3 linked regions of the Homo sapiens genome follow. The protein of the gene in region 1 interacts with the protein of each later gene in a pairwise test. Each region holds a gene or a part of one and is shown in the gene's direction. Other genes may lie near its edges.

Evidence for each region.
Region 2: the proteins of VAMP4 (region 1) and CISD2 interact in binary tests that used the Homo sapiens proteins (3 or more experiments, as listed by UniProt).
Region 3: the proteins of VAMP4 (region 1) and LDLRAD1 interact in binary tests that used the Homo sapiens proteins (3 or more experiments, as listed by UniProt).

What each region holds. Positions count from the first base shown.
Region 1 is NC_000001.11:171,699,167-171,704,572, reverse strand, and holds the end of VAMP4 (vesicle-associated membrane protein 4), read left to right. Parts: intron 1-38; coding exon 39-67; 3' UTR 68-4,413; downstream 4,414-5,406. UniProt on the Homo sapiens protein: Involved in the pathway that functions to remove an inhibitor (probably synaptotagmin-4) of calcium-triggered exocytosis during the maturation of secretory granules.
Region 2 is NC_000004.12:102,864,049-102,871,991, forward strand, and holds the start of CISD2 (CDGSH iron-sulfur domain-containing protein 2), read left to right. Parts: upstream 1-4,943; 5' UTR 4,944-5,036; coding exon 5,037-5,139; intron 5,140-7,943. Other genes in the region: UBE2D3 (ubiquitin-conjugating enzyme E2 D3), read right to left, coding at 4,667-4,696. UniProt on the Homo sapiens protein: Regulator of autophagy that contributes to antagonize BECN1-mediated cellular autophagy at the endoplasmic reticulum.
Region 3 is NC_000001.11:54,015,187-54,023,171, reverse strand, and holds the start of LDLRAD1 (low-density lipoprotein receptor class A domain-containing protein 1), read left to right. Parts: upstream 1-4,985; 5' UTR 4,986-4,995; coding exon of another isoform or gene 4,996-5,059; coding exon 5,060-5,080; intron 5,081-5,744; coding exon 5,745-5,796; intron 5,797-7,985.

The sequences.
Region 1 (5,406 bases):
ATGTTGATATATTGCTTTTTTCATGTTTTCTCTTACAGTTCTTATAGTCATGAAATACCGTACTTGATTTGATGACAGAGATCTTCATTAAACAAGATCTGGGACAGTAATAAAAGATTGCTGCATAATTTAAATGAAACCTATGTGTATATAACTTTCAAAACTTCTTTTTCAAGAAACTAAGAGGCAAGTATCACTTCAAATTGGAACGTTGAGAATGTCCAATTATCTTCTCCCTTTCTAACAAAATGTTCTTTTAATAATTATGTTTAAGGCAAAGAGAACTAGCCTCTATTTTTCCATATTTCAAGGATCTAATTTGAAACTAGATACTTGCCAGTTCATTATTTGTGTATATAAACACTGATTATAATATTTCATATTAATATTTTAATGGCATAAGGACTTGCATTATTGCATTAGGGAGCGGGTCATGCTGGGGGTCAGGAAGCCTGTGTAGAGTACCAAATTATATGCTGAAAGAGATGCATAACCATTCTGTCAATATTTGCAGAAATATAGTTCCTTTCATATTACAGTTGTTTTGCAAGCAATTTCCACATTTATAGGTGTAACAAAAGCTAAATGTTGTAAATGTTGTTGCCCTCAGGTATAACTAAAAACATTCCAGTAAATATATTTTTGACTGTGTAAGAGAATGTGTAGTAATTTTTTTGGCATTGGATTATGGAAATGGAAATTTTTAAACAGTGTGAAAAAACATGGTATGGCATCATAAAACTGGAGATAATAAAGTTATTGAAGAGTGTCATTGGAGTATTTGAAAATGACCAATATATAGCTGCCAGTCATGGTCCAGTCTGTTTTCTGTTAAACTCCAATAAAGAGAGACCAGTCAGTCCTAATGTGAGTAAATGAAATTTACAGGTAACTTACTTACTCCTTAATTTTATTTTAGTTAATAGCCTCTAACTTCCAACTATCTCATTTACCAAAAGTACAAAAAGTAGCAAAACCATCTATTAATACTTTGAATTTTATATCTTTGCATTTCCTGTTCATCCTTGAGGAGATGTATGTTGCACAATCAAATTTTGCATCAGCCAACAGTAATGAGTAGTAGAAAGTCAGGAACCTATGTGTATATATATATATATATATATATATATATATATATATATATATACACACAAACACACACACACACACACACACACACGCACACATATGATAATCAGTCAGTCGGTAACCAAATGCTAGAGAGTGACCATTAACCTAAGCCTGTTTTTATAATGAAAAAATGTGTTAACTTTAAAATATGCCAACCTCCTTGTGTCTTTTAAACAAGTCAGAGTGAAAATACATTGTCCCCTAAGGTGTGGGGAGAGGAAGCTTTATAATAAAATTAGTGATTCTGCAGAAACTTGTGCACTGGATATCTTGACAATATGAATATAAAACTCCCTAAATTAAAAATAGGGTTAATAGAAATTATCAGTATTTAAATAGGGAAAAATGATTTTATGTTTATTTTATTTAGGTTTTATTTCTTTGGTCATCTTAATGCAAAATGAATAAAGCATAGAATCTGGGTTTGGTGTTTTTTTGTCTGTTTTTAAAATTCTACAGGATTATTACTAGGAGGCAAAAAATGCTGTTTAGAATGGAAAAAATTTGAAGAGAGAAAGCAGACTGAGACACTCAAGACACCTGCAAGTTATCTAAGAAGATCTAAATAGAATTACTAAATTTTATAGTTTGCTTAGAGCATTTAGAAGGAGATAAAGGTCTTACATACTATAGTGTATATTGTCTTTGGTCTCTATGCTCTTTGTAAATGTCAATTAATATAAACAGCATCTGAACAGCTAATAAATCTTTTAAGTTAAGATACCCAGAAAAATGAGCATTTTTAGAATTTCAGTAGCTAATAATTCAGGAATGGAAATATTTTAACTGAATGGACAGAATCAGTCCTAACATTTGTATGTATGTCCTTTATTTGAATTGGAACTAGGCTCATAAGTGGTTAATTTTCCATTAGTTGATGTAGAAATCTGGTTTCTCCATAATATCTACAAGTGAAGATGAAGATTACTTCTCAAAAAGTATCCATATTTCCAGTGTTCCTTTTAATAAAATATGCCACTTTTAAATAAATAATTACAAAATGTAAAATTATAAAATTTTTAAATTTAAATAATAAGTAACAGTAAAATTTTTTGACAATATATATGTCACTGTCTTTGTAATTTAAACATATTGCTGCCTGGGATATGGGTAACAGAATTATCACTCATGGAACTTTGTAGTAGTGATGGCTTGGTTTGTAATTCATCATTTCATCTTTCTTGGTCTTGATTAATCCTGAAATCCTTAAAATGGCTGGCATGGTTATGACTTTATTGTGGTAACCTTGGAGATATAAGCCCTCTTACGATCAAAAACAGAAGAAAAAAATATATTGTTCAAACTGATGCCAGGCCTACCTTTATTCCCTCCCTTAATTACTTTTTTTCTCATTCAGCTCAGATCATCCTGCACTTGAAAAATGAAGTTTTACCACCATCAAAACTATCATTATTTAACAACAAGTGAAGATCAACAGAAAAATTCAAGTAGCTTTGCAAATACTAGTTGATACTCAGTGAAATCACGTCACTATTTTGATGCCTGAATCCATACCTTTGTGATTTATGTTTAATTACAGAAGCCTATTGCCTTGCAGCAATTTTGTTGTTATAATACTGATTAATTGGTTACTCCTTCTTATTATAACTCAGTAATACCTGTGGTCATTTGGTTCCTCTATCCTGACAAAGTTCACTGGAAATTGCCCTCAGATTTTATAAACTGGGGGATTTCTTAATTAGATAAAAGTTCATTACTGAAGATGGAATATTATATAAGATGGAGGAAGGGTAATTAATAGACATGAGATATAGAAATACTTTGTTAGCCCTGCTATAGATTGCCTATTGTAGTCTTTCTGTGCATTTCAATAGTCTGTATTAGGAAATTATAACTTCAGCACTTTTGATAGCAAAAATTGGCATCTTTCAATTCTGTATAGTATGTGACTATCCTGTAAATGATAATATGTGTACAGACTGAGAAGGCAGGAATATAAAGTAATTGAAATCTCTCATTGCCGGTATACTCTAAAACATGCTTGATGCCTTGTCAGCATCATTGCACACATTGACTCTGTATTTACATCTGTATATACACTATGATTAGAAAATATGCAAGAAATTGTTTTTCCATGTTAAGAACAAATGCCATTAGAAGATGTCCCCTTAATTGTATTGTCAGAGTATTACTATGTCAAGGATGACTGTTCTGTTAACCTAATTTTGTGTTTTCACATGGAAATGTGATTGGACTCCATTTTTCTGTGAGTTGAGAGTAAGAGCATAAGTCAGTTTGAAAGCATTTACAAGTTTGTTTTAGAATGTAGTAAGGGCTGAAAGGTGCTCTACTTCTTAACTTGTTTTTTCCATGTTGTAGACAAATGAAATTTGTCTAAATGCTTTTGTCTAAAAATGCATTTGTCTAAATGCTTTAGATTGATGTAGGGTTTAGATCCTCTTTAATACTTTGAGATAGTCTTATTCTGATTTTTTTTTTCTTCTGGAAACCAAGTAGAATTAGGGATGGGAATACAAATGCATTTATTCTGGCTTCTGTTTTATTCCAAGAAGCTTCTTGGAACAAATCAGTAGGAATTGAAAAGAAAGCATGACCAACCCAATTACAGGGGATAAATGTAAGCTTGTTAAAGTAAGCACCACACCATGTTTCTGTCTCCCCAGCACCCAGCACAGTGCTGTGAACCTTGGCAGATGCTAGATAAATGTGTGTTGAATGAATGTGCCTATGAAGCCACAAAGATGCCACATGTTAGTATATCAGTGAGAGGTGACTCCACAGTGCTCTCTGGAGAAGCAATATGAGTGACTGAAGAGTGGGGCCTTTTGCTTTTGCCTGGATATAGGGGTGCTCTTCTACTGTAATTGGGTGTGGAAAAACTCTGGCTTTATGGTATTCCATTAGGTTCTTTTCATTTAAAGTAGTCTTAAAATCAAAGTATCCAATATTTTAAAGCCACAAAGTAGATTACATAATTAGCAGAGATTTTAGTCAGTAAAATGTTAGAAATCAAACTATAAGAAAATTCAAGTCCTTTATTTTGTGTCTTGGGTATATGTCATTATTTTAAATTCCACACTCCCTTATTTAATCACTTTGGTAAGTGCCTTTGATGTTTTGAAATGTATAGTGGGAGATGAGCAAATGTAAATGTCATGTGCCCTGTTCCCTAGCTTCTCAATTCCTCATAACCATTTTTACCAGTGTTGCAAAGTTTAGACCTTTGTGTTAATATCAGAAGTGTATTTGTAGCCCCTCCATAGTGAACAATGAAATAAACTATTTCATAGAAAACAAAAATTAAGCACTTTGGCTTATTCAATATGTGTTACCTGTTGCCTTAACTTCAAAGCATAGCTTATTTAACAATAACATCTGGATAATCACCCCTGATTTAATCTATCCTATTTTCCCAATAAAGTGCATGGAGGAAAAATAAGAAAAAGAAAAGGCATTCTTTCACCAAAAATTATGCCTGATACTGACAAAATCTAAGAAGAATTTCTTAGTGATTTTTAACTCAGTAAAGCAATGTCTTTACCTCAGTCCACAGTGTCTGTAGGAGAGGAAGGCAGGCAGTTTTCTCTTAAACTTACATGTCCCAATCAGAAAACCTGATCCTGTCCCTCAGCTGCCTGGTGCTTTAGGCAACCAGAGTAATGTTCATTCTCTCTAGCCTCCCTCCACCCACACACTAAACTGTGTCTTTTTGTTTTTGTTTCTGAGACAGGATCTTGTTCTGTCTCCCAGGCTGAAGTGCAGTGGTGCGATCACAACTCACTGCAGTCTCAGACTGCTGGGCTCAAGCAATCCTTCCACCTCAGTTCTCCCAAGTGGCTGGGACTACAGGCATGTACCACCATGCCCAGCTAATTTTTAAATTTTTTTTATAGACGGGGTCTTACTGTGTTACCCAGACTGGTCTCAAATTCCTAGACTCATGCTATCCTGCCTCAGCGTCCCAAAGTGCTACGATTACAGGTGTGAACCACCATACCAGGCCTTTATTGTCTTAATACTACAAAAAGCCATGGGAGGGGAGATGACATTGGAGGCACGTTGTACCCTGAGATAGTCTTCACAAATAAAGTGCTGTTGTTAGAAATGGAGACAGGAAGCAACCTGGTAAGGGCACTCTGAGAATGATGGTGTTTAATACAATCCACCATTCAACAGATGAGAGAACCGGGCAGGAAGATCAGATACTACCTAAATCCAACAGAGTCATACTTAGTGTGTGCCCATCGAACACTAAAAACTGCTGTGGAGCAGTGACTATCAGCCTGCTTTTCA
Region 2 (7,943 bases), on another chromosome or scaffold:
GATGAAATATCATACTAACTATGCATGTATATGTGCCAGGTACTGTTTTAATTGCTATCTATGTCTTAATTCAGTGAATATACACAACACAACCTTAAGATGTAGGTATTACCTACATTTTTACAGGTTATATAATTTATCCTAGTAGAATCAGAATTGTAGTCTAAACAGTGTGGCTCCAAGAGTCTACAGTCTTAACTATAATGCTGTATGTAATTCCTTGCAGTAAGTAGACAGTAGTAGTGTTTTGTTATATTGTTATTAAATGCCCTTTCTTGACCAAATAAAAAATTGGCAAACCTATCTTGACTTCCCAATTTATCCAGGAATGGGCTGACAGAGCAGAAAAAGACAGGGTTTCAAAACTAAATCAAAGGATGTTTAGTGGCAGTAAAAATGTACCAGAATGTGAGATTGTGGTCACCAGTAAAATTGCTGAATTTAAGGTCTGAAAGCCAGAGTAAAGGGTCATTCATTGATGGTAAAGACGATAATGATAATAACCATTCATTGAGTATATTACAAAATTAATTGTATCTAGTCATAACCACTGGTATCACCATATCAAAGAGAAGAAAACTGAGGCCCTAATTAATTTTCAGTAAAAAGTTAAGTTTTTCATACAACTTGACAAGAGGACTCTGAAATTCATAGAGTAGTAACAAGGCCAGGCATTCACAATGCAATTTGAAGAAAACAGGTGGGGAAGCTTATCTTGCTAGATATTAACACTTACTTATATAGTTGTAGCAATTATGACAGTATGGTATTGTTATAGAGGTTATACAAATACAGCAATGGAAGAGAATAAGCAACCCAGGATGTGTGGAAACCTGATTTGAGATAAGTGACATTACAAACCACAAAAACAAGTTTAACTCTTCAATAAATGGTGCTAGAACATAGTTGTCTGTATGTAAAATAATAACAAATGAGAGTAGATCCCTTTCTCATGCACAAAAAGTAAGTACTGGGTTGAGTAAAGCCCTAATATGAAGAATATAAGTTTAAAACTTTTAGCAAAAACACAGGTGAATACCTTTGTGATTTAGGGGTAGAAAAAGATTTCTTAAACAAGACTCCCAGAACACAAATTGTAAAGAAAAAGATGAATAAATTTGACTACACCCAAACCAAATTTCAGTATAAAAACAGACATACACGGCCAGGCACGGTGGCTCACGCCTGTAATCCCAGCACTTTGGGAGGCAGAGGCAGGTGGATCATGAGGTCAGGAGTTCAAGACCAGCCTGGCAAATATGGTGAAACCTCGTCTCTACTAAAAATACAAAAATTAGCCGGGAGTGGTGGCGGGCGCCTGTAGTCCCAGCTACATGGAAGGCTGAGGCAGGAGGATCACTTGAACCTGGGAGGCAGAGGTTGTAGTGAGCTGAGATCGCGCCATTGCACTCCAGCCTGGGCAACAGAGACTCTGTCTCAACCAAAAAAAAAAAAAAAAAAGACATACACTAGGAGAAGATAAGCAACAGGAAAAGATAAGCAACCAATGTAACCAACAAGGTAATATTTTCCAGAAAACATGTACCAGTGAAACTGATGAACAAACCAATAGCACAGTGGGCAAAGATGTCAAGAGCAGACTAGTAGGCATTTGGAATTAGACTCCTAGAATTAAGATTAGCCTAAAGAAATCTGGGCTGGAAATAGAGATTTGGGCTATATCTTAACGATCATATTTGAATTTGGGGCACTGGATGACCTAATGGGAAAAAAACATGAAAGAAATAAAAGTCTTGGGCCTAGCTAGGACAGGCAGAAGATGAGTGATCCAAGCTCAAGTGCTTGAAAGTAAATAATGACTCCTTTAACTGTATTTACATATTTATCTTGAGTTTTCTGACCACAGTTTCTTTATGTCTTTTAAAGATGGAGTCTAAAAACACTATCGCATAAGGTGGTCAGATAAGCCTATTACATCTATTTAGAGCAATATTATCTTTAGACCATGTTTCATGTGCAGCCAAGAAGGCAGGGTTGTGGAAATGAAATACAAATATAAATGAAAACAGGATTTAAATTTTAAGTAAAGGGAATTTAAGAAAATATTCCTTTTAAGTGGATAATAAGGATTTTTAAATTGGTGGAGTTAGGAATTATCTCCTATTACACATTCGCATAGCTCATGTAATGCATCAGAATACCTAATATATGATCCACACCTTTTCTCTGAATTTCAAGGCCTCCCAAAAAAGTTTTATCCATATAGACTTGCATTCACTACATTTTTTCTACTTGAAAATAGCAAACCAGCTATTCACATAAACTGCTAAGAGGAAGTAAGCCAACCATAAAAAATTACATACTGTAAAATTACTTATATGTGAGGGTCAAAAACATGCACAGCAATACAGAATAGTAGTAATGGTGGTGGATGTGGTTGGAAGGGTCGCTTTTTAAAAACGCCTCTATTGAACATTCTGTATATTGATGTGGGTGGTGGTTACCTGGAACTGTACATTTGGCATTTGAGCATTTTACTATATCTTTAAATTGAGGTATGTATTTTTTAATTCTTTAAAGAAAAACTGCTTGGAGGTCTTATTCTTAATGCACAACAATCACAAACATTAAATTTATACAGTCCAGAGAATGTAAAGTTGCTTTAAAAAAATTCTTTCCTTTTCTCACTTTAAAATACCAAGGGGAAAAATTAAACTCAACACAGCACGTCTTGCCCTTGTCAAGATGACAGATCCTCTAAGAGAAGAAACGAATAGGTAATGGCCTTTTCCAGATTTTCTTTTCCTAATGTACCCCACTTCCAACCTACCCCTACCTCAACTAGGGTATCTAGTTGTACCCAAGGGTGCTTCTACATTAGATCCACAGAGATTAAAGATAACAGTTAACAGAATAGTCCAGAGGACAAGGATATTCAAGTTCCATCATCTTCAGGATAAAAAAGCTCCAGGGTTTACCTCCAAACTCTCTCTAAAGGAAATCCCATCAACCTTTTAAACATCACTTTGTATACACCATCTTCTATACTGCCCTAGCTCAAAAACATGAACCTGTATCTAAACGTGTTTGTAGAATTTCCATTGTAAGTTTTACTTTAACAATTTTGAACAATTATAATGATAGAAAATTATTTAATCTAGATTTTGGTCAACTCTATTACTGATATTCTTTTTTAGTGAAGGACAATCACAAACACTAAATTTATACAGTCCAGAGAATGAAAGATTGCTTTAAAAAATTCCTTCCTTTTCTCACTGTAAAATAAAAATACCAAGGGGAAAAATGGAAAGTATTTATTATAACTGGCTGTTACACTGTCATACACAATGAAATACTGGACCATTAGCAGTTCGTTATTATATGTTGTTAAGTGTAGAACTGTAAATAATGAGGCATATTATTAAGATATCACACACATTATCCAATCAGCAAGTGCACAACTTCGGACATTTTGACTTCAGCCAAAATATGAAACAAAGTCATAGCAAGAAAGTTATTTCAAGGGAGTGAAATTTTCTCCTCTTACCCTTCAAATCTTTTAGAGATATTAATAAAAACAACTATCCAGCCTGGGCGATATAATGGGACTCCATCTACATACACACAAAAATTTTTAAAATTCGTTGGGTGTGGCAGCACACGCCTGTAAACCCAGCTACTTGGAAGGCTGAGGCAGAAGGATCCCTTAAGCCGGAGTTAGAGTCTGCGGTGAGCTATGATCTGACCACTGCACTACAGCCTGGGCGATAGAGCGAAACCTTGTAACAACAACAACAACAACAAAATTAAAACCTTCAAGATCAAGCTTGCCCAACAGGATGGCTTTGAATGCCACTCAATGCAAATCTGTAAACTTTCTTAAAACTTTATGAAAAAAAATTTTTTTTTAGCTCATTAGCTACCATTAGTGTTAGTGTATTTATGTGTGGCCCAAGACAATTCTTCTTCCAGTGTGGCCTAGGGAAGCCATAAGGACCCCCTGCGCTAGACTTCAGCAGAAGCCTTGTAACATAAAGAAAACCATACATAAGGCTTTAGATTCTTTTTTTTTTTTTTTTTTGTGACGGAGTCTTGCTCTGTCTCCCAGGCTAGAGTGCAGTGGCACATTCTCGGCTCACTGCAACCTCCGCCTCCCTGGTTCAAGCGATTCTCCTGCCTCAGTCTCCCGAGTAGCTGGGACAGGCACCTGCCACCGCGCCCGGCTAATTTTTCTATTTTTAGTAGAGACGGGGTTTCACCATCTTGACCTGGCTGGCCTCGAACTCCTGACCTCGTGATCCACCCGCCTCGGCCTCCCTAAGTGCTGGGATTACAGACGTGAGCCACCGCGCCCGGCCAGCTTTGGATTCTTTTACCACTTTCCCGAAGGAAAAGGAACTGAAAATATCTAAGGAAGGACTACTACGAATCTTCTCTGAGTGGCAAAAACCAGAGGTTTTTGGAGCTAGGGCTGCAGTTAAGTTGCCAAGGGGCAGAGATGTAAACAGTTCCTGGTTTAGTTAAAATATTTTAATTTTTATTTTTTTAAGCCTGGCCTTTGGGTGAAGGAGTAAAATTAGGCACTGGGGTCTGGGTAGGGGGAGGATACTCATGGGCGAGTATGCAACCCTAGGGCCACAGCACCCAAACTGTAGGGGAAGAGGCGGGGCGAGAGGGGACGAAGTAGAGACAGCAAGAGACTCACTTTTGAAAGGCACTTTCGGTTAGAAAGCATTCTCACATGCTTATCTCATCGCACACAGTATCCTTTCTGCTGGTCTCCAGCATCTACAGACGTTAAAGGCCCAAGAGGAGGGCCACCTTCACACGAGATTCCGAGGAGGGCCTCGCTACCCGCCAGTTCCCGCGCCTCGGCAGTCCGCCGCGAGCGTACGTCACTCGCCCGCCGCCAATCGGCGCCCGGCAGGTCACCTCTCCTCCCAGGGCCCGCCGCCCCGCCCGCCGCCCAGGCCGAGGCCGCCAGTGCCCGCCGGCCGCTTCCGCTCCCGGCGCAGGCGCGGCAGCTTGGCCAGAGCGGAGGGGGCTCGGGAGAGGAGTGGACGCCGCTGGCCAGGATGGTGCTGGAGAGCGTGGCCCGTATCGTGAAGGTGCAGCTCCCTGCATATCTGAAGCGGCTCCCAGTCCCTGAAAGCATTACCGGGTTCGCTAGGCTCACAGGTAATCCTCCCCCATCAGCCAGTCCCCATCCTTGCACGTTCGCCAAGCGGGGGAAGGAGGCGTAAAAATCCTAGGGCCAAGGGGCGGGACGGAGCTCGGCGCCTGGCACGTGATCCCCGCGCGCAGAGGAAGGTGGGCGCGCGCCGACGCAGCTGCCTGGGGAACGCCTGTGAGGCAGTCTCCGGGTGCTTGATGCCCCAGGGTCTTTTGTCCTCGGAGTTGTCTCCGGTGTCATTCCGTGGCAAGATACCAGGTTTTTGCAGAGAAGGTGCTGAGTTGGGAACAGGCCAGTCTCTTTCATCTCCTGTCCTGCTCATCGCTCTCTGTAGCGTACTTGTTTATTTTAAAGCGGGCTAAGTCGTCGTTATCTAAGGCCTCATGTAACAGGCAGCCCCAGCTACCGGCTGGGTTGTACCCTCAGCATGTGGGTGGGAGTGTGTGGGAGAGAAATATAGACTTACACGTAACACGTATATGACCGTTTTATTTAGTAACGAAATTAGGAGATAACCTCCATTCCCTCAGGTTAGAATTGACCTATCATAGGTGGCATTTGAGGTCATCTCCGTTTCTACGGTCCCGGGGCCCGCTGCGGTAACTTAAGTTGGAAGAAAGATACCTTACCCAAGAAAGTATTCGAAGGCCGGTATGAGGAGTGAAATCTTAGAAAATGAAATTTAGTGAATATATGTAACGTTCTATACTTAAGGACCCTCACTTAACCCACACAACTCATGAGGATTTCACATCTAAAGGATGAAAATCTCCAGAATGCAGTCAACACTTGGGAGATTGTGTTGAGTTATGAGCATTTCATTGTAAGGGGGATATTTCTAAACGGAACTCAGACCGAGTAGGATGGTGAAGGAATCAGCAAGTATTGAACTCCTATGTCCTAGGTTATCAGGGAGTGCAAACATGAATTAAGATAATTCTGAGGTAAATAGGGTTGCTTCGCCGGGAACGTTCTAAAGATCTGTAGTACCTGACCTAAAATACAGCAATCGCACAGCTGTCTGGTAGAAGAAAAATAAGATTTGTGTAGACTAAAATATAGAACTGATAACAAATTAACCAAATTAGTGAAGGTTATTGGGAGGTGAATTTCAGTCTAAGGAAGATTTTTTTTTAAATTAAAGAATGCTTTCCCCAAACAAATGTGGTGCTTCAGTGATAGCCCCTCTCAAAGATGAAAAAAACAAACAAAAAGACTCTGGTGGTGGGTGGTCGATAGATTTAGAAGGGATAAACTAGATGACAAATTCTCTTCCAAATCTAGAGATTCATTGAATTATGGTCAGACAGACGCTCTGTTGAGTGGATTGTGAGATTTTAATATTTTTTAAATATTAAGAGTTTTAGTAGAAAACATGCAATTGAATAGAAAGCATGGTAACAATAATAAACATTAAAAAGGAACATTAAACATCAGAAGCAATGCAAAAGTAAAATAAAATGAAAAACGTTTCACATCAAGTGTTTATAAACATCAGATCTTTTGATCCTACCAGTTTACTCTGACAGAATTGCAGCAATTCCATAAAATTTTGGCTTTCCCCACTTCTTTTACTTAAGTACTTTACATATTTTAATATAATCCTCATTTTTTCCCTAACAACTAAATACTTATTTTAGTTTTAACATCACAATGGGCCTAACCATTCATTCCCTTACAACTGGAAATTAGAAATGTTTCTATTTTTTAAAATTCATTATGTAATAGTTCATTGGCAAGTAAGCAAATACCAGTTGTCATATTTCTCCCTTTTGGATGTCTTCACTTAAATAGCAATACCAGGCCAAAACGGTATGATCATATTGTGACTTTTGTACCCTTTTGTCATTTTGACATTTGTACCTTCTTACTAATTTGCATAAGTTAACTGTTGAGGAATTTTTAACAGTCAAGAAAGGAAAATGTCCAATGAATTACCTATGTTTTTTCCAGATGGTGGCTGCATTTGTATTAGTTTCGATTCTCTGTAAATCAAGTATAATTGAAGAAAATTAGAAAGTATGAAACTAGATTTAATGGCTAGATTTTAGAAGTATGCTTTCTTTTCTTGAGGATCCCTAGTGTCAACAAATATTTAATTCCTATTAAAGACATTAAGAAAACTCAACCAAAACCTTTTCTCTCTTAAGAATATATAGTAACTTCCTCTTAAAAGTTGTTAAATATTTAATATGAAGACTGATTCTCAGAAATAATGACCATTCTGAGAAGTATTTTAATAACATACATTTAACTTAAGTCCCATTACAGTGTGGCTATAGTTAATAGTTCTCATTTTATTGCTGGTTTATTTAGGAAACATGAACATGCTTGTAATAACTGGTTTATGAAAAACATGAGATAGCCCTTTTTGGATTGGACAAAACAATTGCAGGGTTTATTTTGGAGTACTATAGAAGAAAAATTTCAGTGGCTATTTTCCACTCTCGGTCTCCCATTCTGAATAGATTGTAACAGTTAATGACATTTGGCTTTCTTAAATGAGTTACTTGTAGAATCCATAATGTACACTTTTGTTAAAATAAAAACCTGGAAGACAACTTTTTAGCAATTGTTTAAAATGTCTAGGAGACCAAAAAATATTTCCATTTTCTTCTATGAAAATTAGAGCAAAAAACAATACAGTTCACATTATTATTGCCTACATTTCCTTCCCTATTTAAATCTAGCTGTTTTTTAAAGCTATTGACTCTCTTATGATGACTCTGCATTCTTAGAAACCACATGGAGATCTTTAATGACCATATACTAGTTAAATACAGGCAGTTCTCACCTATCAGAAACAACT
Region 3 (7,985 bases), about 120 Mb from region 1:
AAATTTTATCAATGTTTTTAAAAAGCCATAAAGGCAGCACTACGTATTTTTCATGCATATATACCCATATGTTAAAAATATACAAACCAGTTACCAAAGAATACATGCCATACTCAGGAAACTGATCAACTCTGGAAAGGGAGGAGAAGAAATACAACTGGGGAAAAAAACAGAGGCCCTCAATTGTGCTGTACTTAACAGAAAAAAATGTGAAGCAAAACTGATTACATGTTAACACTTGTTAACTCGGATTCGTGATTATTTGTTACATTATTCTTCCTACCTTTCCGTATTTCTTTTTTTTTTTTTTTTGAGACGGAGTCTTGCTCTGTCGCCCAGGCTGGAGTGCAGTGGCGCGATTTCAGTTCCCGAGTTCATGCCATTCTCCTGCCACAGCCTCTCGAGTAGCTGGGACTACAGGTGCCCGCCACCATGCCTGGCTAATTTTTTGTATTTTTTTAGTCCAGACGGGGTTTCAATGTGTTAGCCAGGATGGTCTCGATCTCCTGACCTTGTGATCCGCCCACCTCGGCCTTCCAAAGTGCTGGGATTACAGGCGTGAGCCACCGTGCCCAGCCCAGCCTCAATCTGAGCTCAGCTCAGAGAGGTTAAGTGACCCAGCCAAGATCACTCAGCTAGTGGTGAGACCATTTGGACTATCAGCTCCAAAACTTGTGCTCTTGCTAGAAGTTTACCCAGCCCTGGCCCAGGAGTCCTAGTCAAGGCCAAGGGCCCAGCAGGGTGGAGGTGGAGGTTGTTTACTACAGCCCAAGCCATTAGTGTTCATGATATAACTATCCCAACAACTGCCTTCCGCTAGGACAAGAACAGGCAGTGAAAGCCCCTGCCATCAGTTCTAACTAACCAGAAAGAGAGCAGACAGTAGAGAAGGAGGGGACAACGTGGGCCAAGCATCTGAACAGTGCCCTTCAGGAGCAACTGCTGGGACACGTGAGGTTGGCAGCCTGGGGCCTGTACCCTAGGCAAGAGAGACAGTGAGGCTGAAAATAATTGAGGCTGGGCTGGGCACGGTGGCTCACACCTGTAATCCCAGCACTTTGGGAGGCCGAGGTGGGCAAATCACGAGGTCAGGAGATCGAGACCATCCTGGCTAACACAGTGAAACCCTGTCTCTACTAAAAATACAAAAAATTAGCCGGGCGTGGTGGCAGGCACCTGTAGTCCCAGCTACTTGGGAAGCTGAGGCAGGAGAATGGCGTGAACCCAGGAGGCAGAGATGGCAGTGAGCGGAGATCGCGCCACTGCACTCCAGCCTGGGCAACAGAGTAAGACTCTGTCTCAAAAAAAAAAAAAATTGAGGCTGCACGTGCCAATGTCCCTGAGGCCATCTGCTGCTGTGGAAGGAGTGCTCGCTGTACTGGGACACTGACCACGGTATGGCCTTGCACAAGTCCCCTCTTCTTTCCGGACTTTAGATCCCCCTTCTGTAAAGTGAGGCCGTTGTTCTCTCTGAGCCTGAGGTCCCTTTGACTCTGCTGATCAAAGTTCTGAGTTTCCCTGAGGGACTCTGGCAGCCCTGTTTTCCACTCTTTCCAATTTCCTCCTCTAACCCTCATAATATGGGCACCGCCTTAAGCTGCTGCTAGAACTCTCCATCCACCACTCACCATTCTCCCTGCTTTATTTATTTATTTATTTATTTTGAGACAGAGTCTCACTCTGTCACCCAGGCTGGAGCGCAGTGGCACGATCTCGGCTTACTGCAACCTCTGCCTTCCGTTCGTTCAAGCGATTCTCCCATTTCAGCCTCCCAAGTAGCTGGGATTACAGGCGTGGGCCACCGTGCCTGGCTAATTTTTATATTTTTAGTAGAGACAGGGTTTCACCATGTTGGCCAGGCTGGTCTCGAACTCCTGATATCAACCGATCCACCCACTTTGGCCTCCCAAAGTCCTGGGATTACAGGTGCAAGCCACAGTGCCCAGCATCTCCCTGCTTTAGAATGAGACACATCTGAGGTTAAGCAAAAGAGGACTGCAAATCCTAAAGGCGGCGAGCCACTGATGGTATTTCACAGTTGTCAGGCTGGAGGAAATCAAAAAGTCTGATGGTACTAAGTGTTGACAGAGATGTGATCAACAGAAATTCTCATCCACAAGGGAGGGAGTGTGAATCAACTCTGCTTGGAGGCAAAACTGACCTGGGTTAAAATCTCTGCTCTGCTGTTTACCCACTGTGTGGCTTTGGCAAGTTACTTAACCTCTCTGAACCCAGTTTCTGCATCTGTCTAGTGGGTGTAATAATATTACCTATCTTTCAGAGTTGTTGTGAGGATCAAGGGAGAGGGCGTGTGTAAGGTGGCTGGTGTAGTGCCTGGAGCATAGTAGCTGCTCAATAAATAATATCTGCCTCCCTTCCATCCATGCCCTCCCCTTGAGAGTGAGACTGTGAATTGCAGGGGATATGATTCCAGGAAGTTCAAGGATTGAGGCACCAGGGCCTGTCCTTCATGTCACCAGGCCCCCTGCTGCCCTTCCCTCAAGGGTTCTTGGTGACAGCCTGAGCCCTGGAGAGACGCAGTGCTTTCAGCATAGTTGTATGTGGCTGTACCTGGACTCAGCAGATGAAAGGGCATTTCAAAGCCCCGGGGAGTCTTTTTATAAAGGAACACTTAAGAATCACGGAGTCAAGGAAGGCCAGAGGCTGAAGGGCATTAATATGTCCAGGAATGGCAAATGGTCATTGTCAGGCCTCTGAGCCCAAGCTAAGCCATCATATCCCCTGTGACCTGCACGTATACATCCAGATGACCGGTTCCTGCCTTAACTGATGACACTGTCTTGTGAAATTCCTTCTCCTGGCTCATCCTGGCTCAAAAGCTCCCCTACTGAGCACCTTGTGACCCCCACTCTGCCCGCCAGAGAACAACCCCCCTTTGACTGTAATTTTCCTTTATCTACCCAAATCCTATAAAACGGCCCCACCCTTATCTCCCTTCGCTGACTCTTTTCGGACTCAGCCCACCTGCACCCAGGTGAAATAAACAGCTTTATTGCTCACATAAATCCTGTTTGGTGGTCTCTTCACACGGATGCGAGTGAAAGCCATCATGTCTGATACCCCTCTCCACTCTTACACCCATGGCAGGCATCACTAGTCAATCACAGTTCTGACCTCAGAATCCTTCTGAGGCCCATGTTCCAGAGAGCCTTTTGCAATCAATTGCAGCTGACATGCCAGATAAAATCTAGTTAGTGTCTTTAGTAGGGACCATGGGTGCCCTGCCCATGCTATCAGCGCTTTCCATTTCAGGACATATTAGCTTAGCGTGCAGCTGCTAAGTTGCCATCACTGACATCTCCTTGCCTAAGGCAGCCCAGTGGTACAAGGAATTAACACCCTCTGGCTAGTCTCTTTTTTTTTGAGACGAAGTTTCGCTCTTATTGCCCAGGCTGGAGTGCAATGGCGCAATCTTGGCTCACTGCAACTTCTGCCTCCCAGGTTCAAGCAATTCTCCTGCCTCAGCCTCCTGAGTAGCTGGGATGACAGGCGCCTGCCACCATGCCCGGCTAATTTTTTGTATTTTTAGTAAAGACGGGGTTTCACTATGTTGGCCAGGCTGGTCTTGAACTCCTGATCTCAGGTGATCCACCTGCCTCGGCCTCCCAAAGTGCTGGGATTACAGGCATGAGCCACCATGCCTGGCCTCCTCTGGCCATTCTCAACCAAGACTGGCAGGAGCTGGCAGATTATTACCCCAGTTCCCCTCACCTTGAGTGGGATAACTCTGAGGGGCATCTTCTCCCCTAGCTTCCCCGAGTGCCCCAGCAGGGCTAAATTCCACTTGCCCACAGCGGAAACCTGCTTCATAACACGACTGTTATCGGATCCTTCTCTTCCATGTCTCATTTCCCTCACCCCCCGACCAGCATTTCCTGGGATCACTCCCAATTAACTCTACTTGCCCTCAAATCTTGTCTTAGAGTCTGATTCTGGGGAACCTTAAACTAAAACACCCCCTTCATCTAGCTTATATCTTTATTTTCTGGATGAAGGAACTGAGGCGCAGGGAAGGGGAGTGAGTCACCCGTCAGAGCCAGTGGTAGGGCCCTAATGAGAGTCCTGTTCTCCCGGCCTAGGGCTCAGCTCTTCACAATGTTACTTGCTGCCTCCCAAGGGCTGCCCCTGTGTCTGTGCCTCCTACTTGCACCCACGTGGATTCATCATTTTATTTCCCAATGCAAAAGAAAAGGCTGATTGCAGGTTGGAAAATCTATGGGCATCAGAGGCAGGTGCAAGAACTCCTGAGCTCATTTCTGGAGGTAGACACCTCTCCTCCCTTGGTCCGGGTCCTTGGACCTGTCCCTCAAGATTCCAGGGCCTTGGTTTACTCAGCAGTGGGACAGGCTGCTAGGGAAACCCACTCACTGGGGACATAGAAGGGGTTGTTCACGCAAGCAACCAGCCCCCCGCCTCTTCCCTACCTCAGCACCACCTCAGGGGCAGTAAAAATTCACATTGCCACGTTTCTAAATGAAACAATTTAAAATTATATTTGCTTTATAATTTTAGTGGAAAATGCATATTCTTTCAATCTAGGTCACCTATGTAGTTGAACAGAAGAACATCAATGAGAAAATGACCCCTACTTTCTAGCCACCGAAACGTCAATTCTGGGAGTTTCTGCCTGCATCTTCATACCCCTGGAACCTGAGCTCCTCCGGTTCCATCTCTGATGTGGAGGAAAATGCACTTTCTGAAAAGTTTCTGGGTTTCACTCCTCCCATGCACTGTGAGACTTGGGGCAGTTTCTCCCTCTCTGAACCTCTGGCTCTTCATCTGTGGAATAGGGATGAGGATTCCAGCCTCGCAATGTTGCTGTCAGATGGCAGATGAGGGAATAGCCTGGCCGGAGAGGGGCCCTCCTGCCTTTGCCTCTGCTTGGAAGGCAGCTGACAGGGGCCTGCCCACAGGGAGGGTGTGGCCCGGGCAAGGCCTCCTGCTTGTCCCTCCTCCAGGTTGGCCTTGGTGACAATGCAGGGAACCCGTGCTGAGCTCTCTGCACACAGCCCCAGTCGGGCAGCAGGAAACCGAAGACATGAACAAGGTCTTCCCCCAGGTGAGAGCTGTCCCCAGGTGAGAGTTGTCTCCAAGTAAGAGCTGTCCCCAAGTGAGAGCTGTCCCCAGGTGAGAGCTGTCCCCAGGTAAGAGTTGTCTCCAAGTAAGAGCTGTCCCCAGGTAAGAGCCGCCCTGACCAGGCTCCTGATCTTGGGAGAGCAAACCTTGGGATGAGGAGTGGGCAGTAGAGAGTGGGCATACATGGGAGACACGGAGGAAAATCAGCCCCCGTCCTGCCCCGGGGCTCACTCCCAGGGTGTAGGGGACCCTACCAATGACCCAGCAATACAGTCCAGGTGGCAAGTGCTGGTATGGAAACAGAGGAGCCAGGTGGACAGGAGGGAAGAGCGGCCAGTTTTACTGGGGAGGAGGGTATCAGGGAAAGCCTCACCCAGGAGTCGCTGCCCAAGCCGGTTTGAAGGATGAATATTTATCAGGTGGACAGCAGAGAAAAAGGCTTTCCAGGCAGAGGGCACAGTGCAGGCAAAGGTGTGGACATATGAAGCGGGCATGATGCATCTGGGGCGTGAGATGCTGGGGTGTGACGGACCCGTGGTTCTACCTAAGACTCTCTCAGTGACCCCTCTGAAAACCCTGTTGTCTGCCTCCCTGAGGCTGGAGCTCACCTCACCTAAGCCCACCCCTCACTCTGTTCTCTTGGGCAGGGAGAGAATGGCTACACTGCTGCTGAATCCAAAGCCCACCCTGGAGGGGAAGGTAAAGAACTGGAGGGCCTGGGGCCAGTGCCCTGTGGGGCTCCCTTGAAGCTGGCAGTTGGCGATAGAGACATGAGGAGGGTTCAAGGCTCCCACTGTCCCTCAGACCTCTGCCTCCATGTTAACGTTGTCTGCTCCCAGCTTCCTGGCCAGCCATGCTGACAGTCACTTGCTTAATAGGGTTATTCATTCTCTCCATGCACATGCATTCATTAAGCACCTACTGTGTGCTGCCTACCTCACAGGCACCAAACTGCATACAGTGCCCACCTGTAACACAGAGAAAAGAGCACCAGCGTCAAATTCTTGACTCAGTGGGTGACCTGGGCAATTCTCTTTAACTCTGATGGATAAAGTGACACATTTATTTAGCCCTACTATGTGCCACTGGCCCATGGTGTGACCAGGACAGTCCTCTTTACCCTTCTGAAAATAGAAGAAGGAAGAAACACACATGTACTGAGCTTTGCATATGCCCTGGCTTGGCCCACATTTGATCAATGACGAAACACACTCAGAGAGGTAGATTAAAATACCAGCTATAAAGAATCCATCCCCAGTTAGGTGCCTGGCACTGCATGATCTCTTTAATCCTCAGGACAGCTCTGAGACAGGGGCCCTGTTATGGGGCAATAACAGATGAGACAGCTGAAACTAAGAGAGGTTGAGTAACCAGGCCAAGGTCACACAGCAGGGAGGTTGGAGGGCCAGGGTTCAAATGTGAACTGAGGTCTCTCTGGTTACAAAGCCCCAGGGCTTTTGTTGCTCCGAGCTGGTGTTTGTTTATTTCTAAGTCCTGACTCATGATGGGCGGGGTTGTGGAAAGAATCACCTCCTTTTCCTCATCGGTACAGGGAGAGGACTGGCACCTAAGGGCTTTCTGGCTTTGAAGTGCAACAGCTTCACCTGGGCAGGAGCCTTGGTTCTGCGGGTTCTCCCATGGCCCCACCTTGTGCATGGTCTGTGCTGCACAAATATTTGAGGAGCTGCTTGGCTGATCAGGACACCTCTCCCTGCCCAGAGTCACGCTGCCTCCCTGGTTACCTGAGTTTACCCTGTTTGCTGATGGCCAAGGAGCCACCAACTAGGGCTGTAGGGATGACAGGTTTTAGATTTATGCTGCCTCTCCTGCTATTGTCTCCCCTCCCAATACACATCCATCTTGGAGTCCCACCACCCCAGGCCATTTGTGCTCCCCCACCTGCAACCACTGGGCCTTTACTCCTGCCACGCCCTCTGCCTGGAATGCCCTCTCTTTGCACCCTCCCCTTACCTGCCTGTGGAAATCCCATTCTGCTTCTGAGGACACTGCATCAGAAATGTGAATGGATTGGAAATAACCTGGACTGACCCATACTGGGGGCCTTCTCTTGCCTCCTGGACCCCCAGGTCGGCATATTCACAGAGTGTTCACAAAGCCCCAGGCCGGTGTGGTGGCTCACACCTGTAATCCCAGCACTTCGGGAGGCCAAGGTGGGCGGATCACCTGAGGTCAGGAGTTCAAGACCAGCCTGGCCAACATGGTGAAACCCGTCTCTACTAAAAATACAAAAATTAGCCAGGCATGGTGGCGGGCGCCTGTCATCCCAGCTACTCGGGAGGCTGAGGCAGGAGAATCGCTTGAACCCAGAAGGCAGAGGTTGCAGTGAGTTGAGATCATGCAACTGCACTTCAGCCTGGGCAATAGAGCAAGACTCCGCCTCAAAAAAAAAACAAAAAAAACAAAAAAAACAAAAGCCCCCACCACGTGCCTGGCTCTGGGCTGGGCCCTGGGGTCACAGGGATGAATCACACCTGCTCCTGCCCCTTTCTCTGAGGTACCTGTGGCCTGGGCACGTCAGTAGCTCCCACACCCCTTCAGGCATGTCCATGCCTTGCCTTCTAAGTGCAATAACAAGCTGCAGAGGGCAAGGACCAGGGCAAGCTGCACAGCAGGGCACCCAGGAGGTCCTCAGTAAAGCCTTCTTTTATTATTTTGTAAGCAGGGGAGAATTAAAGGAGAATTAAAGTACAGTTCTACAAGAGCAGGGACGTCCCCTATCACTGCTATCTCCATAGTGCTTAGAATAAGGCTCGGCACATGGTAAGTCCTCAATAAGCAATAACAGGCCAGACACAGTGGTGCACGCCTGTTGTCCCAGCATTTTGGGAGGTTGAGGCAGGAGGACTGCTTGAGCCTAGGACTTATAG